7 linked regions of the Homo sapiens genome follow. The protein of the gene in region 1 purifies or fractionates together with the protein of each later gene. This does not show direct contact. Each region holds a gene or a part of one and is shown in the gene's direction. Other genes may lie near its edges. The genes, in order: SLC45A3, HDLBP, PRRC2B, EIF3E, SHTN1, MAP1B and NDFIP1.

Region 1 (4,215 bases):
AAGGGCCCCTGGAAAGAAGTGGTGGGAGGCAGGAGGAAGAGGGGGGCTCTTACTTGTCTGTGGTGCGACAACTCTCTCATGTTCCCAGTGTTCTTTCCCAAGCCTGCAAAATACCACCGTCCACTCTCTCCTGGCTCTGTAATTTTCCAGCTGACCTGAAATTTCCCCTGACTCCTGACCTCTTTCCTGGAGGAGAGGGGACACCAGCTCAGAGACCCTGGACTCCACCCTAGTCTCTCTGCTTGCCACGAGAGGGTATGCCAAAGACTTTGGAAAGCCATCTCCAGGAGGGTCCCCAGGTAGAGGTGTGTCTGCTCCAGGGAGGCAACGCTGAGACAGTTTTCAAGTTAAACTTGTTTAGTGACTCAGAAGGTAGATTCTTGATTTTTCTCTTCTCAACTCTCTCTGGCACCTGCTCTCTGTTCCCCACTACCACCAGGGCGCCACTATTTCCTCTCCCTTCTCTATCTCCCTTTCTTCTCTGCCTCCTTCTACCTCTCAGCTGGAAGGTGCCCTTAGAAATCATTTGGCTCACCCCCTCTTACAGAGGCCCAGAACATGGAAGGGACTTGGCCCACGTTATACGGCTGTTGACACAGGGCCAGCATTGGAACCCAGTGCCCCAGTGCCTGGTTGGCTAAGGCCAACCAGGTCTTCCCCTTCGAAGGCATCTTCCTGGGACTTTGTAGTATTCAAGTCAACAATCCAACTAAATTGGATTTCTCTCCACCCAATAAAACTCCATGGAGGAAAAAAAGACAAAACTGCCCCCCAACCCCCAACCCCAGGGCCAGCCTGGGACTCCATCAAAGACATTCTGGAACAGGTATCTGTTCGGACCTTGCTCAACAGCTGACAAAGAGAACATTTCATTGGCAATTTATCATCCATTCTTCCCCGTACACACTCTTAAGAAGAAAAAAAATTGGAATTTGGTTTTCAGCGCAGAAAGAGGGATTGAGTTAGCTCTGTCTGCGTCGGAGAATAGCAAAGAGCAGAAGGGTAATTCGGAGAGAATGTGACATCTCCTTTGAAGGGATGGTCCTGGACAGGTAGGGAGCAGCTCTGCCTGGAGATCGGGTGGCCAGAATGGCACGCCTGGGTAATGGTCGCAGCAGACTGGCTCCGAGTAGGGGAGGGGAGGTGCCCCGCGAAGCCGGGTAGCTTTCACCTAAATGTTTGGTGGCGAGCGACAGAGGGGGCGGTGCCCTGCCCTAGGTAATGATAGGGCAGTCTGGGAGCCACGCGGGGGCTGCCCGTCGCGGCGCGGCTACAAAGCCAGCTTCGAGACCTCCCGCTTTCTTCCCCTGGGTACCAGCCCCACCCCTCTATCCCCCCTCGCAGCACCCCCCACCTCCGTCCCGCCTCGCCCCGCCCCCCTCCTGGCAGTCCCAGCGCGCATGCTCTCTCCCCCCGCGGAGTAACCTGGAGATTTAAAAGCCGCCGGCTGGCGCGCGTGGGGGGCAAGGAAGGGGGGGCGGAACCAGCCTGCACGCGCTGGCTCCGGGTGACAGCCGCGCGCCTCGGCCAGGTAGGAGCGCGCCCCCTCCTCTCCCAGGGGTGAGGGTCCCGGCGCGGGAAAGGGAGCAGCAGTGCACGGCCGAGCTCCGCGCTGTCGCGTGTTTTGCGCCCCGCGGGATGGGGCTGCGCCGTGGCCGTCCGGGGCGCTGCGCGCCGAGCCCCGCGCGAATCCCAGAGGAGGGCGCGTCCCACACGCTCTGCCGGGGCGGGTGCCGAGTGCCCGGCGCCTGCACGGGTCCCCGCTGAGCTGTGCTTTCTTCCGCGGAGGGCGGGCAGGCAGGAGGTGCCCGCGCTGTCCCAGGCGGGGCGGCGGTGTGGGCGGGGAGCGGCCCCTCCCCGGAGCCCCGGGCCGGGCCGGACCGGGCCGGGCCGACGGCTGGCGGACCGGCCGCTGGCTCCTGTTGCAGCCTCCCGTGTCAGACTTTTCTTTGGAAAGTTGCGTTTATTTTCTTCTCTTGTCTGGGCTTCACCGGAAAGGGGCAGGATGAGTCACTGCGGCGCGCACAGTCCGGGACTTGGGGGAGCCGGGACGGGAGCCGACGGCCGCGGCGCCGCGGGGTGCTCAGGCCCAGGCCGGCTTTCTTGAGGAAGAGTGAGTTATTAAGACAGGGAAAGGGGACTGAGCCCTCTTGGACTTAGAACTGGGGCGAGCTCTGGGTACAGAGTTGGGACTGGACCGTGTGTGTGTGTGTGTGTGTGTGTGTGTGTGTGTGTGTGTTACTGTGTCCCCTTTTCAGCCTCAGTTTCCCCCTCTGTGGGGAGAGAAAGGCCGCTGTTTTCTCCTCGCCTCCCAGGTCTCAGGTGGGGAAGGACAGAGTTCTGCAAACGGCAAACAGGTGTGATGTGGTGGTACCTAGGCATCCCGTGCAGCTTCTCAGAGCTCTGGGCCTAGGCAGGCTTGCTAGAAAAGCCCCAGGGACCTGCATGCTTTCTCCCTAGTGCGGGTCAGGCCTTCCTGTAGTCTTCCGCTCCCCCCAGGCACTGCAGTCCTGTGAGTTGCTCTTGCCCTTGACCTCTGAATCAGCCTCCATCTTCCTGACAGACACTCTTGACCTGCTCAGCTTTTCCCCACTCCAGGGCGTGTTCCCTATGCTTCCTCTTTTTCCAAGGGGCCAGAGTTGGGGGTAGGGAGGGGTTTGGCATGGTGGGTACCTGGTGAGGACTCGCCCTTCAGCTGTTACACAGACCCGGTCCCGGTGGAGCAGGGACTAAGAATAGCCCAGCTGCTGTCTTGCTGCCCTGGAGTCTGCAGCCGGGCATTGCCAGTTGACCAGGGCCCGCAGTGACCCTTGCTGGGGTCCTGGAACCTTTGCTCAGGGGTGGGGTTGAGGTCCTAGGGGCTTCGGACTACCTTTCCTGAGGCACTTAGCAGATCTCCTTTCAGAGCAGAGACCGCCTTGGTGTAGACTCACCTGCCCGAGGCCTGGGAAACAGGCTGGCCTATTGGGGTGGGAGTGGGAGGGCCCAGGAGGCCCAGGCTAGACGGGAAGCCTGAGGAAACCCATAGAGCAGCATATTGTAGGGGATAAGTGGGACGCAATTTGAGGTCGCAGGCCATTCTGTTGGATCAGTCCCATTCCCTCATTCCTCCCTTATCTCCTCCCACCAGGCCTGTCGTGGAGCCAGGACTCTGTTGTTCTGAAAGTGCTCAGAAAATGCAGCTTGAGTCAGCAGAATGAGTTTGAAGATAAAAATACAGCTGTGGATGAATGTACAGCTGTGGACAGACAGGCCCCAATTTAGTGGGTGTGTGTTAGGGGGAGTTTTCCTATGTATTCATGGAGTGTGTGGTGAACTTCCCCATCCCTCCTGGCTCCCTGAATAACGTTGAAGGAGGAGGAGGAGTAGACAGTGATCCCTGGTGGTCTCCTGAGCCCATTCCAGGCCACTGGGTGGTGGAGGGATAGTGGAGGCCTCTCTCCAGCTCTCCCCTTACCCAGACTGGAGCTCTCAGCCTGGGCAGGGCTGGTCTGAAGATTCAAAGTAAAGTTAACTTGAAGACTTTAAGTACTATCATCTGGACGTCACAGCCTGATAAGTCAACATGGATAAAAACCCAGACTGTCAGAAAGATAGTTTCTTTTTTTAGACGAAGTTTCACTCTTGTTGCCCAGGCTGGAGTGCAATGTCACGATCTCAGCTCACTGCAGCCTCCGCCTCCTGGGTTCAAGTGATTCTCCTCCCTCAGCCTCCCAAGTAGCTGGGATTACAGGCACCCACCACCATGCCTGGCTAATTTTTGTATTTTTAGTAGATACAGGGTTTTACCATGTTGGCCAGGCTTGTCTTGAACTCCTGACCTCAGGTGATCCACCCGCCTCAGCCTCCCAAAGTGCTGGGATTACAGGTGTGAGCCACCGCACCCGGCCAGAAAGAAAGTTTCTATATTGGCTGCTTCACTAGGTGAGCTCCACCAGCTTGGCAAGTTACATAACCTCGTCCAAGCCTCAGTATCCCTGGCTGCAAAATGGGAATGATAATACTTACTGTATAGCTTTGTTAAGTAGATTATAACAGACATAAAATTTATAAACATATAATTACGTTATATATAGTCTAAAAATTATAGCTTTATTAAATATTGTATATAGAATACTAAACTGTGTGTCTGACACATAAGTGCTCAATAAATGTTAGTACCAACTATATATTGTATCGATCATTTGGGACTGAATGGACAGCAGTGCCTAGCCT
Region 2 (3,500 bases), on another chromosome or scaffold:
ATAGCCGAGGTAGAGGTCTCCATCCCTGCCAAGCTGCACAACTCCCTCATTGGCACCAAGGGCCGTCTGATCCGCTCCATCATGGAGGAGTGCGGCGGGGTCCACATTCACTTTCCCGTGGAAGGTTCAGGAAGCGACACCGTTGTTATCAGGGGCCCTTCCTCGGATGTGGAGAAGGCCAAGAAGCAGCTCCTGCATCTGGCGGAGGAGAAGGTGAGCATGGGGAGGGAGCGTGACTCTTGGCAGGAAGCCTGGTCCTCAGTACAGTGTTCTCGCTTCTCACTGTGGAAACCCCTGAATGCCCTTCCTTTGTGGCGGGTCAGAAAACAGCTCTATAATGTACTGTTTATGCGTCTTTGTTTTTGCTGTTACTGGAGGGCCTTTCCAGGTCCAAACGCTCACATATGCAATATATAAAAGTTGGTCTTTGGCTTATTAGTTTTGGGGTGCTTTTGTTTTTTAAATATGATTTACAGTAAAATTGGCCATTCTTCAGGTATAGTTGAGTTTTAAGTAACATGCAGTCATGTGACCACAATCATCAAAATTCATTTTCCATCACCCCTAAAGATTGCCCATGGAATTGCTGTTGTCCTTGTGTCAAAACCCATCTGTGGGTATGTTTCCGGGCTCTTCTGGTGACACCAGGTTTATGGGAAGTCTGGAAATCAGTAGTGTGAGCCCTCTTAACTTTGGCTGTTCTACACCCCTTGCTGATCAGCCTGTCAATTTGTAGGAAAAAAGCACTTTCACGTTTTGATTGGGATTGTGTGAAATTTGAAGATGAGACTGGCGAGGATTGACAGCTCAGCAGTTTTGACTTTTGCAGGCATTTCTCCATTTTTTTTAGGTCTGTGATTCTTTATTGGTGTTTTATAATTTTTAGCACATTTTTATGTTCGACTTAACAGATCTAACTACTGTTACTCTTTTAGTGCTATTGTAAATGGCACTTTTTTTCCATTTCCAGTTGTTAGCACATGGAAGTGCCTGTGGTTTTTGTATGTTGACCTTCACGAGGCTGCTAAATAAAGCTCATGTATATTAGCGCCAGTCACTGTTTTGTGGATTTTTTTTTTTTTTTTTTTTTTTTTTTTTTTTTTTTTGAGACGGAGTCTTGCTCTGTCGCCCAGGCTGGAGTGTAGTGGCGCAATCTCGCCTCACTGCAAGCTCCGCCTCCTGGGTTCACGCCATTCTCCTGCCTCAGCCTCCCGAGTAGCTGGGACCACAGGCGCCCGACACCTCACCCAGCTAATTTTTTGTATTTTTAGTAGAGATGGGGTTTCACAGTGTTAGCTAGGATGGTCTCGATCTCCTGACCTCGTGATCCGCCCGCCTCGGCCTCCCAAAGTGCTGGGATTACAGGCGTGAGCCACTGCGCCCGGCCCACTGTTTTGTGGATCCTTATTTTATATGTCACAATCACGTGGTCTGTGGACAGTTACATTTCTCTCTAATCTGGAGCCTTGTATTTCTTGTCTTTTTTGTTGTTGTTATTAGATTGATGTTTTTGTCTTTGTGTTTAACCAGCCTTGCGTTTCTGGGGTAATCCCTGCTTGGTTTGGTAGGTTGTCTTTGGCCATATTGCTAGATTGCATTTGCCTAATTGATTGCCTAATGTTTGACTAATGCTGCTATTTGTGGATGTCTTTGAAAAGTAGCAGAGTCTCTAGGTGGTATTTGGTGAAACCTGCACTTAAAAGGTAGCAAAGTTGTTATTTAATATTTTTGTGCTAGCATGTTTTTCTTTGGTATTTTTGCTTGCGGGCCAGATCTTGGGTCCGGAGAAAGGCAAGAGCTCCCCGTGTGGACCTGAGTCCCGTGGAGCAGCGCCCTTCTCGGGGCCCCTGCGTGGGTCTGCCAGAAGCACTGGTGTCCACAAGCAGTGTCCGGGGCCTTTCCAGGACCCTCGTTTTCTTACTGCCACACAAGGGCGTCGCACTACACGAGGCCTCTGAGGACCGGTCTCTAACTGTAGCCTTGGTTGGCTTGTGTCCCTCTGAGCTTGAGCTTGAGCCTGGGGAGTGGCTGGTTTTGTGGAGGCTGATCTGTAGCACTCGTGGGAAGAAAGGGAGCCTGGCCCAGATTTGTGTGTGCTTGGTCTGGAAGCAGGTAGAAGAGTGGGAGCATGGTGCACACCTCTTGGGCAGCTTGCTTCCTGCTCTGCTGGGCACACCCCACGCTCCCCAGGACGTGCACTCCGCCAACATATCGTCCGGCGCGTTGCTCCCACCTCCCCCTGTGCAGATCAAAAATGGCTTGGAGAAGTTTGGTCAGTGCTTGTAAGTGGCAGGACCAGGGTTCTAAGCCTGTGTGTTCATCCCACCAGCATCTGGTTGTTGTGGAAGAGAAGTAGGTGTGCAGTCTGGGTATTCATCTGTTTATTCAGTGAGGTGTGCTAGCCCCATTTTGGGGGTATTGGTGCAACATCAGGACACTGGTGACAATGTAAGGGGAGCCCGAGCTTGCTGTCCTACAGACCCTCTTGTCTTCCTCACTGTGGTCCAGGCACGTGGTGTCAGGCTAACACAGTGGGATTGGTTTCTGCAGCAAACCAAGAGTTTCACTGTTGACATCCGCGCCAAGCCAGAATACCACAAATTCCTCATCGGCAAGGGGGGCGGCAAAATTCGCAAGGTGCGCGACAGCACTGGAGCACGTGTCATCTTCCCTGCGGCTGAGGACAAGGACCAGGACCTGATCACCATCATTGGAAAGGAGGACGCCGTCCGAGAGGCACAGAAGGAGCTGGAGGCCTTGATCCAAAACCTGGTAGGGAGCGGGCCTCGGCGGCCGACTCTGCTGGGGCCGTGATGGGGTGGCTTATCTTCCATCTCTTCTTAACACTGCAGGATAATGTGGTGGAAGACTCCATGCTGGTGGACCCCAAGCACCACCGCCACTTCGTCATCCGCAGAGGCCAGGTCTTGCGGGAGATTGCTGAAGAGTATGGCGGGGTGATGGTCAGCTTCCCACGCTCTGGCACACAGAGCGACAAAGTCACCCTCAAGGGCGCCAAGGACTGTGTGGAGGCAGCCAAGAAACGCATTCAGGAGATCATTGAGGACCTGGTAGGCACTTGGGTGCTCGGGGAGGGGTTCTCACCCCCCAGTGGCCACTCACCGAAGCCGTGTATGAGTGTTCGCTCCACCCTGTAGGGAGGTGACTCCCTCATACAGCCCTGGAAGGCTTCAGAAGGGGCTTTCTGGTGCTCGCTCTTCTTTCCTCAGCCTGTCTGGCCTCCTTCCTGATAGTTGGTGAGAATTCTGCCTGCGAGAAGCACTTAAAAAAAAAAAGAGAGAGAGAAGGAGAAGAGGAGAGGGGAGAGAGAGAGAGGAAAGAAAGCAAGAGAAAGAAAGAAAATGCATTCTGTATAAGGGATCAGGAAAAATGAAAATGCAGTCTAAGGGGTCAGCTCTCTTCTCCCCTCTGTGAAGGAAAGAAAATCGATTTGAGGGCATCCACGTGAATCCATGGGAAGTCATGAGAAGACGTGGTCT
Region 3 (3,500 bases), on another chromosome or scaffold:
GGGATGACAGGTGTGAGCCACCGTGCCTGGACACCCAGGCTGTTTCAGACTCCTGGACTCAAGTGATCCCTCCGCCTCCGCCTATCAAAGTGCTGGGATTACAGGCATGAGCCACGGCACCCAGCAAGGCAGCCTCTTTCATGAGCCACTAGGTTCTGGGGGGTCTCAGTCCTGGTTAAGCCCTTTGATGAGTGGGGCTTGAGGTCTTACTCCATTTACTGGTTTGAACCTGGAGAAGCCTTTTGTCTTAAACAGTTTTTGTTTCTAGGGACATGGATGCCCCATTGACTCCTGGGGAGATCCTGGTCTGGTGGGGAGGAGGCCCTGGAGAGCCCCCCACCTAACTTTGGCCTCATCCTCTTGTGGTTTCTTTCTTTCTTTTTTTTTTTTTTTGAGACGGAGTTTTGCTCTTGTTGCCTAGGCTGGAGAGCAATGGCGCGATCTTGGCTCACTGCAACCTCTACCTCTCGGGTTCAAGCGATTCTCCTGCCTCAGCCTCCTGTGATTTCTTCGGAGCCCCCTACAGTTTCTCTTTATAGCAGTTTTCACAACTTGTAAATAGGTGTTTTTTTCTTTATTTGAATTTTAAAAATTGTGGTGAAGTATACATAACATAAAATTTACCATTTTTAAGTGTACAGTTGAGTGGCGTGAAGCACTTTCACAGTGTTGTGCAACCATCACCACCATCCATCTCCAGAACGTTCTCATCTTCCCAAACTGAAACTCTGTTCCCATTAGATGCCAACTCCCCTCCCCCATCCAGTGGCGGCGGCCACCATTCTTACCATTCTTTCTCCTTTTTTTTTTTTTTTTGAGATAGGGTCTCACTGTCGCCCAGGCTGGAGTGCAGTGGCACGATCTTGGCTCACTGCAACCTCAGCCTCTTGTGTAGCTGGGATTACAGGCACACGCCACCACACCCAGCTAATTTTTGTATTTTTTTGTAGAGACGGGGTTTCACCATGTTGGCTAGTCTGGTGTCGAACTCCTGGCCTTAAGTGGTTTGCTTACCTCAGCCTCCCAAAGTGCTGGGATTACCGGCATGAGCCACCGTGCCTGGCCTAGTTTTTGTATATTTTATTTTATTTTATTGAGACAGAGTTTTGATGTTGCCCAGGCTGGAGTGCAATGGCGCGATCTCGGCTCACTGCAGCCTCTGCTTCCTGGGTTTAAGAGATTCTCCTGCCTCAGCCTCCCGAGTAGCTGGGATTACAAGCGCCTGCCACCATGCCCAGCTAATTTTTGTATTTTTAGTGGAGACGGGGTTTCACCATGTTGGCCAGGCTGGTCTCGAACCCCTGACTTCAGGTGATCTGCCCACCTCGACTTCCCAAAGTGCTGGGATTACAGGCGTGAGCCACTGTGCTTGGTCTAATTTTTGTATTATTGTTATTATTTTTGAGACAGAGTCTCGTTATGTCTCCCAGGCTGGAGTGCAATGGCACGATCTCGGCTCACTGCACCTCTACCTCCCGGGTTCAAGCGATTCTCCTGCCTCAGCCTCCTGAATAGCTGGGATTACAGGTCTGGCTAATTTTTGTATTTTTAGGAGAAACGGAGTTTCGCCATGTTGGCCAGGCTGGTCTCGAACTCCTGAGCTCAAGCGATTTGCCTGCCTCGGCTTCCCAGAGTGCTGGAATTACAGCCATGTGTAATCCCATGGTGGCAATGTTGAGCCACCTTGCCCTGCCAACCATTTTACTTTCTTTCTGTGAAACCGAATACTCTTAAGTACCTCATGTAAGTGAGATCATCCAGTATTTGTCATTTTGTGTCTGGCTTATTTTTAGCATAGTATTTCCAAGGTTCATCCATGTTGCAGCATGTGTCAGAACTAACTTCATTCTTAAGGCAGAATAATATTCTCTTATTTGCATGTATCTACCACATTTTATTTATTCATTCAGCGACGGGCAGCAGCCTGTAGATAGTTTTGTTTTCATGTATTGAATGGTCCTTTCCCCCAGTGGAGTGAGTAAATGCATCCGGAAGCAGAATTCTGTTGTTTCCCATTCATCACTGTGTGCCAGGTGTCTGAGAAGGGGGTCTTATAGGAGCCCACGCAGAAACCAAGCTCACCTCAGTCTGGGTGTGGGGCAGTCAGGGAAGGCATTCTGGAAAATGTAGCTGACTCGAAATAAGCACCTATTGAAAATAGTGTGCTGAGCCCTGGAACATTAAAAATGTGTTCCTATGTGGAAATCAGAAATGTATGGGTCCCAGAAGAGAACTTGTGGGTCAGCCTGCTTTCCAGAGAGTGCCGAGGCCCTTTGAATGGTGAACATTATGCAAGCATTCTTGTATGGCCAGTGGCCAGCAGGGAGGAGGGCAGAGAATGACTGTGCCTCCGGGAAGCCGGCGTCAACTTCCCGACACGCTTCAGGATCATCTCTTTGTATAGAACCATGGGATGGATCGCTGCAGGACCTACTGGAAAAAGGAGGTCATCTCCAGGACTCTTTCCATGGGTCCTTTGTGTCTTGCAGAACTTTTTTCGGCAGGTGTTGTTTACATATGGTTCAGAGCTTAAAGAACAGCTGTGTTCCAGGCCAGGGCAGAAAGCACAGGCCTGTCTGGGAGGGGCATCATCACTCCTGCCTGCCTGCCCAACCGACCTGTCGGTGGACTGAATGGGCCAAGTGTTCAGAAGTCCTTGGGAAGAGGATAGTGTCCTGAATCATAATGTGGTATTTTCTGGTTTTTTGTTTGTTTGTTTGTTTTTGGTAAAATGTTAATTGCAGAAGTATACAGGTTATTTTATTTATTTATTTATTTTTTTTTGAGGTGGAGTCTTGCTCTGTTGCCCAGGCCGGAGTGCAGTGGCATGATCTCGGCTCACTGCAACCTCCACCTCCCAGGTTCAAGCAATTCCCCTGCCTCAGCCTCTTGAGTAGCTGGGAGTACAGGTGCATCCCGCCACGCCTGGCTAATTTTTTTTTGTATTTTAGTAGAGATGGGGTTTCGCCTTGTTGCCCAGGCTGGTCGCAAACTCCTGAGCTCAGGCCATCTGTCCACCTCAGCCTCCCAAAATGCTAGAATTACAGGCGTGAGCCACTGCGCCTGGCCCATACTTTAAAAAAAAAAAAAAAAACAAAATTAAAAGCCAAGTGTTTGAAGAGAAATGAAAGCTTTTCCCCAATGTCCCAGGCAGTAACCATTATTGATAAATTTGCTTTGTTTATCCTTCTAGGCTCAGTGCACGTATAAATATGGCCTCATGTAGGGAGGTTTTTTAAAAAACAAAAATGGGATATACTATATTGTATTGCAACTTGGCATTTTCAAAATATCACAGTATTTTTCCATACGTATTTTTAAGCGTAACTTCTCTTATTTTTATTTTCAGTAATACTTTTTTTTTCTTCCTTAGGGATGTGGGGGTGGGTCTCGCTATGTTGACCAAGCTTGTCTTGAACTCCTGGCCTCAAGCTGTCTTCCCATCTTGGCCTCTGAAAGTGCTAGGATTACAGGTGTAAGCCACCACACCCAGCCATTTT
Region 4 (3,500 bases), on another chromosome or scaffold:
GGAGTTGTTTAAACTTAAAATATACTTTTTTCTATCATTTGAATTTGTTGTCACCTGTTTTTTTTTTTCTTCATGTAGTAGATTTGCTTGTTACTGAAAAGTATGCATGTGACTCTTAAGTAAACTATTTGACAGAGTGTACCCTAAGCCTTTTAAAGTGCTATTTAAAGTGTGGTCCCTGGGCCAGCAGCATAGAAATCATATAGAATCTCAGGACTCACCCTAGAACTAAATTAGAATCTGCATTTTAATAAGATCCCAGGTAACTCATGTAAACATCAAAGCTTTAGAAATGAGGCTCTAGGGCATACTACTTGAAAGGAATACGTGCATCTTTTTATATCATCTTTGCTCTGTCAACTAGCTTTTGTTTAATATTTTGGTGATGAGAAATTCACTGCTTATGAACTAGACCATTCTTTTGTAAGCTAGAAATTATTTGTAAAATTTACTCTTCCAGTGGAACTCAAATACCTCTGAAACTTCTGCCCATTATTTCTTGTTTGTTTGGAATGACAGAAAACAAGACTGCTTCATGGAAACTCTTTAGATGTTTTAAGATAATTTTTTACTCCTCTCTGCTTCCTTCAGGCTAAATATCTCTAGTTTTATTAAGTAACACAGTTTTTCAGACCCTTTAGTATTTTGATTGCCTTTTTAGATAATTTCTATTCATATTCTTACAATCTAGATGTTCATAATTGAAATTTTATTCTAGGATTGTCATCTAAACTTTATAGATTACAGTGGCAATATTAGCTCATGTTACTTGTATGTATGCTTTTACTAATATAGCCTAAGATTGCAGTAGCAATTTTAGCAGTTGCTTCATGGTATGAGTTATATTGTATTGACTATATTATTGGGCAAATTTTACAATAACACTTTTTTTTTTAGATAATGTCTGGCTGTGTTGCCCAGACTGGAGTGCAGCGGCATTATCTTGCCTGACTGCAGCCTCTACCTCCCAGGCTCAAGCCATCCTCCCCCGTCAGCCTCCCAAGTAGCTGGGACTACAGGCACATGCCACCATGCCTGGCTAATTTTTCTATTTTTTGTAAGACAGGGTTTCACCGTGTTGTGCAGGCTGGTCTCAAACTCCTGAGCTCAAGCAGTTCTCCTACCTCAGCCTCCCAAAGTGCTGAGATTACAGGCATGAGCCACTGGGCCCAGCCCTACATTAACAGTCTTAGTTCATACTTTTACTATTTGTTCATCTAAATGAAGATTTTATAGTTTCATTACATTTTATCTTGTAGAAATGAAAATGGTTTCATATGACAAATGAAATAATAAGAATTCTAAATCATTAGGAAATACTATATACTTGGCTGATATCCTCCAAAATCTGAAATACCCTGTGTGGCATTATCAGATCAGTTAACTGAGGGAGGAATCATGGGGGGTTTTGCTTTGTTTTTAAATGATTCCATTAACAGGATTATGGGTCCTGATGAATGTATTGGTCAGTATTTAAAAAGTGTGTGCATATGGGAATATATCCTAACTTTGTGGGGCAAAAAATCCCTTATTTGAACATCCAGTAAAGCCTTCCTCCTCAAACATTAAAGTTAGATAGATATACACTGAAAAGCCATTGGATATTTGGAAGGAAGAGAAAAATGATATTAAAATTATATTTGGGAGTATTTTTACCAGCCAGTGCTTCTTAAACATTTTGGTCTTGGAACCCGTTTACACTGTTAAGAATTATTGAATGTAGGCCGGGCGCAGTGGCTTACGCCTGTAATTTCAGCACTTTGGAAGGCCGAGGTGGGTGGATCACCTGAGGTCAGGAGTTCGAGACCAGCCATGGTCAACGTGGTGAAACTCCATCTCTACTAAAAATACAAAAAATTAGCCCCACGTGGTGGTAGGCACCTGTAATCCCAGCTACTCAGAAGGCTGAGGAAGGTGAATTGCTTGAGTTTGGGAGGTGGAGGTTGCAGTGAGCCTAGATCACACCATTGCACTCCAGCCTAGGCAACAAGAGTGAAGCTCCGTCTCAAAAAAAAAAAAAAAAAAAGAATTATTGAATGTAATTTTCTTTGCATTGGTTTTATCTCTTGGTGTATACAGTAAGTCCTCAATATTGTCTCTAGGTTCTTGGAAACTGCATCTCTAAGCAAAACAATGAATAATGAAACAATTTTCTTTCTCAACAGCTTCATAATGAAAGAATGTTACTTGGTTTTAAAGTCGTAGTTTCCAAGAAGGTACCGATTATGTTAAGGACTTAACTGTATTAAAAATCAAAACAAATTAAAAATTTTCTCATTAATAAATGGTAAATTGATTCAATTTAACACATAATAGAATTTTAACGAAAGTAACTTTGAAAACAAAATTAGTGAGAAGAGTGACATTGCTTTACATTTTTGCAGACCTTCAGTTGCTGGGTTAATTGACAACTGGGTTTTCATGCCTGCTTTCTTGCAGTCTGTTGTGATGTGCTTTAACTGTAGGATGAAAAACCTAGCTTCACACATGTAGTTGGAAAAGAAAGGTGTGTTTTATTAATAATATCCTTTTCCGATAATTGTGAATATTCTTTTTTGAAGATACAGTAAAATTCAGTAAGAAGTACAGATAAAATAAAACTCAACAAGAAATAGTTTTTAAAAGGTTGTTTGTAATGTAGAATCTGAAACCATGTGGTTAAACTTTTTGGGATCCTAAGCTGTACTGGTATTCTAGACTGTATTGAGCTATCTTGCACTTGGAATGGATCTTTTTTACCCATGCATGATTTTATAGTATCATTCATTGGTTGTTTGGGAAATACTTACTGGTCCAGTGAGTTATGCAGGTATTCCAGTGTGTTGACATTATACAACACCAGAAAAACCACATTCATGAACATCACTACCAGACCCATAGAAACGGGTTTAAGCATTGGAAAGCTTTCAAGCTCCCAGTGGCTGATACAAATTTTCCAAAATTCTAGTTTTTCTTGAAAGCTCTAATTTTATCATTTGTTTTTCTTGAAGGACAGGCTCACTTCATTTTCTAGAAAATGTCTGGCAAATTCCCAAGTCTGAATGTCTGAATAGCTTTAGTTTGTCTGCCATTCTTTCAAGTAAAAACAGTGTTCTGTGAGAAAAGCAGCTGGTTCATCTTGTTTCTCAGTTGCACAAGTGCTTTTCCTTAAGGACAGCCGTGACAGTGAAGTGTGTATACAGCAGAAGCACTTTATGAATACTTACCATTTAGTCATACAGAAGACTAGAAAGATTAGTACTTAAGGGTTGAAGTTTTTAAAAATTAATTTGGGCTACGTGATTCAAGGACATAGTTGAAACTTTTTGTGTGTTTTTTAAAACTGCAAAAGTGTGGTGGTGAAAAATATAGGGACTGCTAGTATAGTTTGATGCCACTGCTTTGATTTACTCTAAAGTACAAGAAGAATTTGTTTGTTTATAGTTTAGTAATTTTTAGTAACTTAACTGAGTGATATAACCATCACAAGTCAGTTTTAGAACATTTTTATTGCCCCAGTA
Region 5 (3,500 bases), on another chromosome or scaffold:
GATAAGCTGACATTGATGGAGATACTGTAGTCCCTGCTTACCCATGGAGGAAGCTATGTTTCAACACCTGCAGTAGGTGCCTGAAATCATGGATAATAACAAACCCTATATATTCCAAGTTTTTTCCTGTGCATACGTATCTGTGATAAAGTTTAATTTATAAGTTAGGCACAATAAGAGATAATAAAAACTCATAATAAAATAGAACAATTATAACAATATACTGTAATAAGAGTTATGTGAATGTGGTCTCTCTCTCTCTCTCTCAAAATATCTTGTGGTACTGTAGTCATCTATTTTCATACCATGTTGACCATGGGTAACTGAAACCCTGAAGAGTGAAACGGTAGATAAGAGGGAAACTACTGTCTGTCAGAGACACAAGAGCCGATGGAAAGAACATCCAATGTCCAAAGACGGAACTCTGAACAACAGAATATTGGATTATAATTCAAAATTTGAAGTAATATTCATGAGTTGATACTGATATAAATAAATGATTAAAGACAAATCTCCCATGCAGAGCAATTCCAAATAATTTATGTAGATGTTCCCCCTCAAAGCGGTGTATCTTAACTCCCTGATTCTTTTTTTTTGAGACAGAGTCTCGCTCTGTCCCCCAGGCTGAAGTGCCGAGGCATGAGCTCTGCTCACTGCAAGCTCCGCCTCCCAGGTTCACACCATTCTCCTGCCTCTGCCTCCCGAGTAGCTGGGACTACAGGCGCCCGCCACCATGCCTGACTAATTTTATGTATTTTTAGTAGAGACAGTGTTTCACCGTGTTAGCCAGGATGGTTTCGGTCTCCTGACCTCGTGATCCACCCGCCTCAGCCTCCCAAAGTGCTGGGTTTACAGGCGTGAGCCATCGCGCCTGGCCCTAACTCCCTGATTCTTAAGTGTGGGCAGCACATAGTGAATTCCTGCCAAAGACTACAATATGGAAAAGGGGGAACCAGTAACTTTACAGTGGAGAAACCTGACAAACACTATGTCAGCTAGATGATCAAGGCCAACATCAACAATGATGATAGCATGATAGTGTGATGTGATGAATTGGCGTTTTACCTCTGTGGTCTTCCCCTAAAAACCCATAAAGCCAGTCGACTCATGAGGAAAATATCAGCAAATCCCTATTGAGAGACGTTCTGCAGAATACCTGATCAGCACTTCTCCCAACTGTCAAGGTCATAAAAATGAGTAAAGTCTGAGAAACTGTCATAGTCAAGAGATGCCTTAAGGATTGAAGGGTAGAAAAAATAATCTGTCCCTCAAACCTTGTAAGTTCATAATTGGGACAGATACCTGTAACAAAAGACATGAACAAGCAAGTTTATTAATGCATGCAGTGCACATCGCAAGGGAGAAAAATAAGCAGTGGCTCAACATACTGTCTTCAACAAAGAACTATACATTTAGAAAAGTGTTAGGACAAAGGAAAGCAGTTCCAGGCTTCCAAAGGCAGGAGAATGTGGGAAGGTGAGTTTATGGGGAAACTCCTGGGGTAAAGTCTACTCGCAGATTTCTCTGCCACCATCTCTGAGGTGATATGGGTTGTAAAGGAGAATGGGTATCTTGTTTTTAGGTGGGAAATGGGGAGAAGATAGACCTCTTGTCTTTGTAATTCTGTGTCCTGCTTTTAGGCAGACAGAGGGAAGGCAGATAGTTTCCTTCATCCTAATTATCTTTAGCTCGAAGGTCTTTCATATTTTGGGGAGATAGGCTGGTTTCCTTCAGTTCTCCCCTTTGAAACTTTACTTTCAGAAAGTCTCACATATTATGTGCTAGGCTGGTAGCTTTGGAGAGGTATGGTTGTAGATAAGTGATTGGCAAAGGGGAAGAAAACCAGATTGGAACCAGCAGAAAAGAACAGATTTAAGTATATTGTCTCATATCTTATTGAGTCAGTCTCTTAGTCCTGAGACTAGGTTAGTTTAGGTAAACAGTCATGTTTTATTTCAAGAGGTGGTGTTATGGGTGATCTCTTTAATGTTAGGTTTCTATATGTATAAGCATACAAATACTTAATAAGAGACATTTCTATGAAAAAAAAGGAAAAGCAAGGTTAATGTTTAGAGCAGTCTATAAATTAGTTTCTGAGTCTGGAGAGCAGCCAGTTGAGAGGATTTATAAATCTTAGGCTCAAAGTGTCTTCAGCTGGAGTGGGGCAGGCAATTGCAATCTGACAGATTTTCCTTGTTTGTAGTTTAAATATCATAAAGGTTGTCGATACAAAAGCTGTTGTGGTGATTTCTCTTATGTTTGTATCAAGTTGTCCAGCTTTAGCTTGCATAGCTTCAGAAAAAGCCCAATTTTAATTTCAGTGATTCCAGGTCAAAGGGTGGGAGAAAAATTGGAAATGTTAGTTTGGAGACTCACAGCCAGGTATCAGAAAAAACTAAAAGAATTTAGGATCCATTCCAGATTGCAGGTAGTTAATAAAATCTCAAAAACAATGAACAGGGCTAGAATCTAGTAATGGGTGAACTATAGTTTCTGAACTATTATTTTTCTGAAAATATTTTTCCTCTCTCACACTAATTTCTACCAAAAAGAATCAGTAAGACCAGTTTATTTGTAAAATAAGTTTTTGTCTATTATACTTGGCCTAATTATTTACATAAATGCAGCAAAAATAGTGATTGACTATGTAAGCCCTTTTAAAATCTGCTTTGCTGGAACTCTTCATAAGGAATCTCGGATTAGGCTTACAAAAATGCCTCCTTAGGCTAAGAAGCCAAGCTTAGGACTCAACATCAGATTGTGCCTATAGTAGTCTTAGATAGATAGCTCTCTTCCCTAGATTCCTGATGTTCCTGGGCCTGTCAGGAAGGTGACATTCTTTACCCTATAAGGCAACCATTTGAACCATGTATTCAAGGTACGAGGCCAGTATTTCCAAGGTGCCTTTATTGGCCCCATTAAACTGAGGTTCCTCTAGGGACCTCAGTTCCCAAAAACTGGTCATATCAGAAAATACGACATTCTCATCAAACTTTGGCAATATAACCAGTATTTTCAATTGTATCCTATTAAAAGAAGAACGGATTCTTCCTGAACTTATGCAAATGCCTATATTATCCTAAAAATAAGAATACTCATGAATAGTTTCCAAATTTTGGAGGGATCAAGTAAGGAAGAAAAGTAAATGTTTCAATTCTATTTGCAAAAGTATACTTTACCAAATTGTCTTAAGCCATAGATAGCGCAAAAGAAGAAAATGTTTTCCTAAATCTGGAAAATAAAAGAATCAGTAGTGTTTCTAATAAAGTCCTAAAAATCACAGTCCCTCATCATGTTAGTCCCATGTAATTAATTCTTAATTTTGCTCGATGTTAGCAATTTTAGGAGTTCAGTTTCTCCTTTAGATTTCTGGAGTTCATACCTAGTCCACTGGTATTTCCTTAAAGTTATCAGAGACCTGTACAGGTCAGAGTTCTTTTTGTTCTTCCCATATACCTCCTTGAAGACCCAAAACTTTAGGATTATAATTGCTTGCAAAA
Region 6 (3,500 bases), on another chromosome or scaffold:
ATCTAGCTTACATGTTTATAGCAATTACAGAAACAATTCAGACCCATCCCCATAGCAGGTTGGGGCCTGCCTGTGGCCGATAGCAGATTTCTACATGGAGGGACTGAGGGATGTTCTGATAAGAAGAGTCCCCACATCTGTTTAAAACTGTCTTTCTGAGGTGGTGGCTTGTCTGTCTCATGTGTACTGTGAAGGGCCACGTGTCCTTCTGCACTTAATTTTCCTTGGCCCTGAGGTTCAGAGAAAGCTCTGTTTGTACTTTTCATCACTGGCAAGAACTGTAAGCACACTGCCCAACTTCATCTGAGTCACCTGGAGGCTTCTTTAAAAACACTGATCAGAAGGCATAATAATGTTCACTCTCCAGCCACTGGGGTGGGGAGAATGTAAAACTGTGAAAAGGAACATTTTTGAAGCCACAGCTGTCAGAAGGTGTGGCGTCATCTGCATCTTGAAACACATACCAGGATGGGATCCCCCAGGCAGGCAGCTCCTTTCTCAGAGGCTTCAGAGCTCACTCACAGTTGGTTCATCTTTACCACTTCAAAATGCAAGCTTTGGCTGTGTCTTCTTCCAAGGCCGCTAGAGTTCACGCATCTTGCCTCATTCATCTCGGTATCCATTGCACCTGCACATAGTAAAGGCCTAGTAAGCCGCTGTTCAATTGCATTGAAATTCCAAAGCTAGGGCTACAATTCTCACTCTGCCTACTGTCCTGAAGTTGTTGTTTGATCACTATAATGTCAGAATGTTTTGCAAGATTATGTCCCCATGTGCATGTTGTACCCGGAGGCAGGTGGGCATTTGTCTAGTAGCTCTGGGGTCACACACATTATTAGCATCTTGCCTCAGGGAAGAGAGAAAGCTGCAGAAGGCTGGAAGTGGCCCAATGACATGGTGAGCAGTTAAGTGGCCTGCTTATAGCTCATTTGCATGCACATGGGCACTTTCCACATTCCTGTGCAGTTCTGTAGTTATTTTCTAGTGGTTGGTTTCTACCCAAGTCATTGGTTTGTCTTTTTTGCCGAAAAACCAGACAAAGGAAATATGTAAAGAAAAGTGTCATTGCCAAGATTTTCAATAAGGAAGTAACACGATTTGGCATATTTGCATCTCAAATAATATCCCTCCTTCCCCTTCTTTAAATAAGGTTGTTATGAATATTGCTGCTTAATCATTTTTACTAGATTATGGAAGCAAAATTTTAGCACCATGGACTGTGCACGTGTCAGATTTTGCCACTAATTACAGAAAAAAAAATTTGCCCTAACTGAAGAACTCGAGTTCCGTGGAAGGGCAGATTCCCCAGGGTTTATACTTATTGGGGTAGGTTCTGGAGGACACATATTTTGATTATACTCAGGCAGGTATCATTATGGTCAGAGACCATGTCATATTCTCTTCTGCCACCCACAAAGAAAGGATGCCACAGCTAAAGTGAATTGAAAACCACTGGACTGGACCAGTGGTTATCAGCCTTTTGGAGCTAGGATTGCCCATTGTTGCCTTGGAAAAATGGTTGAGTAACTGAATAACAAACGGACCTTGAAGACCACTTGTTGTCCAGCTCTTTTCCTTTTATCCAGTCCTTGAAACATACTAGTTAACTCCAGGGAAACCAAAACCACAATTTGGGACAAACAAAAATGATACTTTTTAAAAAATATAAGAACAGCTAAAAATAAATGGACTGAAAAAATAGAACTATCAGTACACTTTGAGCTTCAGGTTTTGGAGTCTTAATCACTGGAGATCAATTAACAAAACCAGAACTAACAGACGGTACAATTGTCTGGCTAACCCCACTCCTCCCTGAAATCCAGGGATGGTGAAATCATCATCTCCTGGGGACATTTTTCAGTCTCTGTGTTGGAAAGTTTTTCCTTATTTGTCTCATTGTATCTTCAAGGAAGTGATGTGATCCCTTTCCCACCTACAGTGTCTTAGTTACCCTTCACCAACACTGCCGATTTTTTCCCTTTCAGATTAATCATCTTCAGTTTTACCCACAGTTCTTCATAACCCTGCTCACTGTCCTTCAAACTTGTTCCTCTGTCAAGAAAGGGAGGTGAAGGCCAGGTGCTATGGCCCATGCCTGTAATCCCAGTACTTTGGGAGGCCAGAGTGGGAGGATCACGTGCGGCTAGGAGTTCTAGGTTGCACTCAGTTATAATCTGCACTGCACTCCAACCTGGGCAACAGAGCAAGATTCTGTCTCTTAAAAAAAAAAAAACTATACTTAAAACATTAAAAAAATAAAATAAAAAGAAGAGGAGATGGGATGGGTATGGGGGGAATTCAGGAGTTTAGTCCTGGTCATGTTTTAGTGCCTTGAAATCAGACAGTTGGATTTATGAGAACAGAGCTCAGGGAACTCAGAGTCGGGCTGGAGATACTAATTTGAAATCCATTAGCATATTAGAGGTATTTGAAGCCCAGAAGACACATGATGTGACCTAGAGTGAGAAACATTTTAAGAAGAGAAAGGGCCCAGGTCCAGTGTTGACAGGTCATAAGGCCAAGAGGAAGGAGCCAGTAAGGGAGACTTGTTTCAGGTTTTTGCTTGTTGGTCTAATTTCTCTAAAATGTCATGACTCAAACTGGACACCCTATTCAGGAGTCATTTGACCAGGTTAGGATTGTGAGAGTTGATAATGTCTATAGTTTTCAATACCATCTTCTATTAAAGAAGTCTAAAAGTGACTTTTGACCATCACCATACACCATTAATGGTCAATGGGGAAGTCAATGGGGAAGAGATGCAGGCTTTGAGGGGCTCGACAATTTATATAATTTAAGGGCTCTTTTTTAAGAAAAATGAAACAATTATTAATATACAGTTAAGTACAGGGCCATGCCAATGAGGTACCTTGAAGTTTAAGCTTCTTTGGCTTCATGATAAATCCATTTGACTGTCAACTAAAATCCCTGAGTCTTTTCCATGGATATTATTGTTAAGCCACATCTCCCAATCCTGTAGTTTACCCTGCTGGTTTATTGAACCTTACATTTATCCCTTTAGAATGCCATCCTGTTAGAATTGACTTAGCCACCATCATCCCAATGTCAAGAGCTTTTATAAATACCTTAATTCTGCCATTCCACATTTTGCTGTGTCTCCCATTTTCATACCATGCACAAATATGATATGCATGCCTTCGCCATTTTTATCCAAGTGAATACAGGCCAGAAAATGAGACTTGAGGCAGCCCATCATAGACCTCCCTCCAGGTTGACATTAAGCAGCACTATTTATATGGCTGGCTGGAAATCCACCTAATTCTACTATCACACTGTTCAGGGGTCCTATTAAATGTCTGGCTAAAACCCAGAGATACACTGTCTACTGTATTTCCTCATCAGCCAAGCAAGTAACCTAATCAAAAAGGAAATGTAGTTCGTAGGCCATGGTTTAGAAATTCAAATCTTGTTTCATTAATCTCATCTGCAGTAAAACCATTTATTTCTTACATCTTCCTTCCTCTTCCAGTATGCCTGCA
Region 7 (3,500 bases), on another chromosome or scaffold:
TTATTTGTTGTATTAGAAAGATAAGAAAATGCAATGCTTTTAGAGGTGATGTTATATAAGTTGTCAAAATTCAGAGAACAGGAGGATGAGTGACTTGAATCAGATTATTTGGGGGCACTTATTTAATGTTGAAGGCATTTATTTTATTTACTGGACTATATATATATAACACACACAGTAAAAAGCAGAGGTCAGGCTGGGCATGGTGGCTCATGCCTATAATCCCAGCACTTTGGGAGGCCGAGGCAGGCAGATGCCCTGAGGTCAGGAGTTCGAGACCAGCCTGGCCACCATGGTGAAACCCCATCTCTACTAAAAATACAAAAATTAGCTGGGTGTGGTGGCAGGCACCTGTAATCCCAGCTACTCAGGAGGCTGAGGCAGGAGAATCGATTGAACCCGGGAGGCAGAGGTTGCCGTGAGGTGAGATCGCACCATTGCACTCTAGCCTGGGGGACAAGAGTGAGACTTCGTCTCAAAAAAAAAAAAAAAAAAAGAGGTCAAAGGCTGGGCACAGTGGCTCATGCCTGTAATCCCAGCACTTTGGAAGGCTGAGGTGGGCGAATCACCTGGGGCTAGAGGTTCAAGACCAACCTGGCCAACATGGAGAAACCCCATCTCTACTAAAAACAAAAATTAGCCGTTAGCCGGGCCTGGCGGTGCACGCCTATAGTCCCAGCCACTCGGGAGGCTGAGGCAGGAGAATCACTTGAACCTGGGAGGCAGAGATTGCAGTGAGCCAAGGTCGTGCTACTGCACTCCAGCCTGGGTGACAGAGTGAGACTCAGTCTCAAAAAAAAAAAAAAAAAAAAAAGCAGAGGTTGTAAGTATACAGTTTGGTGAATGTTAAGGTTTGCTTTTTGCTGTTTTTTGTTTTTTTTGCTTTTTCCTTTTGAGACAAGGTCTTGCTCTGTTGCCCAGGCTGAATTTGGAGTGCAGTGGTGTGATCACTTCTCAGTGTACCCTTGACTTCCTGGGCTCAAGTGATCCCCCCACCTCAGCCTCCCAAGTAGCTGGGACTTGCAGGTGTGCACCACTGTGCCCGGCTTTTGTTTGTTTGTTTGTTTGTTTTGTTTTTTTCAGTTTTTGTAGAGATGGGTCTCACTGTGGTGCTCAGGCTGGTCTCAAACTGCTGGGCTCGGGATCCTCCAACGTTGGCCTCCCAAAGTGCTAGGATTACAGATGTGAGCTATTGTGCTCAGCCTATTAAGGCGTTTTTGAAAGTGACTAGCAGTAGACATAAGTGTGTAAAACCTGATAGGGAGGAGTTTTTCTTGTTTGCTTTTTGGGGAAAGACAGAAGAATGGATGTTTTAGAGGAGGTATGGTGACGGTTGTGGAGGACAGGCTGTCTTTTATCCTTTGGAAAGTCATTTAAACAGAGGCAGGTGTAAGGCACTCTTGTTCTTGGGTAACAGGACATGTCTAACATCTTTCCCCTCCTCTGCTTTTGCAGTGGCATTCCTCTTTAACTGGATTGGGTTTTTCCTGTCTTTTTGCCTGACCACTTCAGCTGCAGGAAGGTATGGGGCCATTTCAGGATTTGGTCTCTCTCTAATTAAATGGATCCTGATTGTCAGGGTAAGTTGTATAACAGAAAAGATGGGCTCTACAGAGAGGCAATAATCAGAATATTTTTGAATATTCGATTTTTCATTTGCTTTTTTAAAAGTTATTTCAGTGTGTTAAATGATTTTTGGTTTGTCTGTGGTTTCATGATGAAGCTGAACCAAAATCATTTGCAAATGGTTCATGCACACAAGTTTTGTTGTCAAATCTATTGAAAACTGGTCTATCATTAATATTGTTCACCATCTGCTTTGTTTGTTTTTAATGTTTATAATATGATAATGTATATGTTCTGAAATTAGTTGTTTTTATAATAAAAGGAAGGATATTACCCCTTTGATATCTCATCAAAAGCAGCCATTCCTCTCATTAATTCTGTTACAGTTTTAATCTAGCTCTCTTCTTCCTTCTTTTCTTTTCTCCTTCTCTTCCCCTCTCCCTTCCAGGATTGCTTATGCCAAAATGTTTGGGGAGCCAAAACTGTTTAACAAGTATTGCTCCATTAGGAGCCTACCTCTCAAGTAAATTACAGAGATGTATGTCTTTAGTGACTTCAGAGTTACCAGTTAGTTAAATTTGCATGAAGTAATTTACAGTTGTAAAAGATCTAGGCTTTTAAAGTATCCTCTGATTTCAGATAAATTTATTGCTATCGTCAACCTTATAAACAAAACCAATTTATCCGTCATAAATTGGCATACTTAACTAACTAATGGGTGTTGCTTGACCACTGTAGTTTTTCTACGTAGTGCCACCTTATTTATTATAAAACATTTGTTAACGTTTTTAGGGTTCCAGAATCCTTTGGGAATCTGATGAAAGTTGTAAGCTTTTCCCCCACATAGCTAATATGTACTCATCTATAATAATGGACTTTAGGTTAAGAACTCGAGCCCTAAAGAGGTTTTCATTCCTTCCCTAAATTTTAATTGTTACTTTATTAACAAAGAAAATACTATATTTTACTTTTCGAACTACATTAAACTCTTGGACACCAAAGCCTCCAAGGAAAAGAGAAATAAAATTAATTCCAGTCTTTTTTTTTTTTCAAACTAAATTTTCAACTGCATTTAAAAAGTGAATCAAATGGGCCGGGTGCGGTGGCTCACGCCTGTAATCCCAGCACTTTGGGAGGCCGAGGCGGACAGATCACGAAGTCAGGAGATCGAGACCATCCTGGCTAACATGGTGAAACCCCGTCTCTACTAAAAAAATACAAAAAAAATAGCCAGACATGGTAGCGGGGGCCTGTAGTCCCAGCTACTCGGGAGGCTGAGGAAGGAGAATGGCGTGAACCCAGGAGGTGGAGCTTACAGTGAGCCGAGATCGTGCCACTGCACTCCAGCCTGGGCGACAGAGCGAGACTCCTTCTCAAAAAAAAAAAAAAAGTTAAATGAATTAACTTGTATCAGGTAGGATGCTTTTGACTGTGAGTAACAAAAACCTAGCTCAAAATGGCTTAGAAAAAAATTTTTAATTGTTTTTTTAAACGGGGAAATTTTATTTCCCCTGAAAACAAGTCCCTGACAAGGTTAGTTAAGTCAGTGGTTCTTTGACATCATCAAGGACAGCTGACATATCAGCATATTGGCACAGGTCCCCCCTCCCCTCAGGGTTAAAAGATGGCAGTTTCACGTATCAGTATTACATTGAAACACGACAGTGCTCAAGAGAAGAAAAAGAACTATTTAAAAAAAAATTTTCTACCACCTTTAGAAAGAACTGTTTTTTTCTTTGAGAAGCAAGGAAAGCTTCTCAGAAGCCCTCAATTTCCACTGGTCAGAATGGCATCCTGTGCCCATTCCTAAACCAGCAAGGGAAGGGGATTACCCTGGTATACATGATAAAGCTTCCAAAGTCAAGACAAGGCTGGAGGAGTAGGAAGAAAATCAGGCCTCATTAGAAAGAAGGCAATGGTATCATCTACTCAGG

What was found.
Region 2: the proteins of SLC45A3 (region 1) and HDLBP purify together in Homo sapiens (affinity purification with mass spectrometry; one large-scale study listed by BioGRID and IntAct). This does not show direct contact.
Region 3: the proteins of SLC45A3 (region 1) and PRRC2B purify together in Homo sapiens (affinity purification with mass spectrometry; one large-scale study listed by BioGRID and IntAct). This does not show direct contact.
Region 4: the proteins of SLC45A3 (region 1) and EIF3E purify together in Homo sapiens (affinity purification with mass spectrometry; one large-scale study listed by BioGRID and IntAct). This does not show direct contact.
Region 5: the proteins of SLC45A3 (region 1) and SHTN1 purify together in Homo sapiens (affinity purification with mass spectrometry; one large-scale study listed by BioGRID and IntAct). This does not show direct contact.
Region 6: the proteins of SLC45A3 (region 1) and MAP1B purify together in Homo sapiens (affinity purification with mass spectrometry; one large-scale study listed by BioGRID and IntAct). This does not show direct contact.
Region 7: the proteins of SLC45A3 (region 1) and NDFIP1 purify together in Homo sapiens (affinity purification with mass spectrometry; one large-scale study listed by BioGRID and IntAct). This does not show direct contact.

The regions. Positions count from the first base shown.
Region 1 is NC_000001.11:205,677,710-205,681,924, reverse strand, and holds the start of SLC45A3 (solute carrier family 45 member 3), read left to right. Parts: upstream 1-1,415; 5' UTR 1,416-1,531; exon of another isoform or gene 1,532-1,555; intron 1,556-4,215. UniProt on the Homo sapiens protein: Proton-associated sucrose transporter. May be able to transport also glucose and fructose.
Region 2 is NC_000002.12:241,239,173-241,242,672, reverse strand, and holds part of HDLBP (vigilin), read left to right. Parts: coding exon 1-213; intron 214-2,364; exon of another isoform or gene 2,365-2,550; coding exon 2,551-2,772; exon of another isoform or gene 2,773-2,852; coding exon 2,853-3,071; exon of another isoform or gene 3,072-3,171; coding exon of another isoform or gene 3,172-3,282; intron 3,283-3,500. UniProt on the Homo sapiens protein: Appears to play a role in cell sterol metabolism. It may function to protect cells from over-accumulation of cholesterol.
Region 3 is NC_000009.12:131,400,586-131,404,085, forward strand, and holds part of PRRC2B (protein PRRC2B), read left to right. Parts: intron 1-3,500.
Region 4 is NC_000008.11:108,224,718-108,228,217, reverse strand, and holds part of EIF3E (eukaryotic translation initiation factor 3 subunit E), read left to right. Parts: intron 1-3,500. UniProt on the Homo sapiens protein: Component of the eukaryotic translation initiation factor 3 (eIF-3) complex, which is required for several steps in the initiation of protein synthesis.
Region 5 is NC_000010.11:116,995,188-116,998,687, reverse strand, and holds part of SHTN1 (shootin-1), read left to right. Parts: intron 1-3,500. UniProt on the Homo sapiens protein: Involved in the generation of internal asymmetric signals required for neuronal polarization and neurite outgrowth.
Region 6 is NC_000005.10:72,187,475-72,190,974, forward strand, and holds part of MAP1B (microtubule-associated protein 1B), read left to right. Parts: intron 1-3,500. UniProt on the Homo sapiens protein: Facilitates tyrosination of alpha-tubulin in neuronal microtubules. Phosphorylated MAP1B is required for proper microtubule dynamics and plays a role in the cytoskeletal changes that accompany neuronal differentiation and neurite extension.
Region 7 is NC_000005.10:142,136,279-142,139,778, forward strand, and holds part of NDFIP1 (NEDD4 family-interacting protein 1), read left to right. Parts: intron 1-1,455; coding exon 1,456-1,580; intron 1,581-3,500. UniProt on the Homo sapiens protein: Activates HECT domain-containing E3 ubiquitin-protein ligases, including NEDD4 and ITCH, and consequently modulates the stability of their targets. As a result, controls many cellular processes.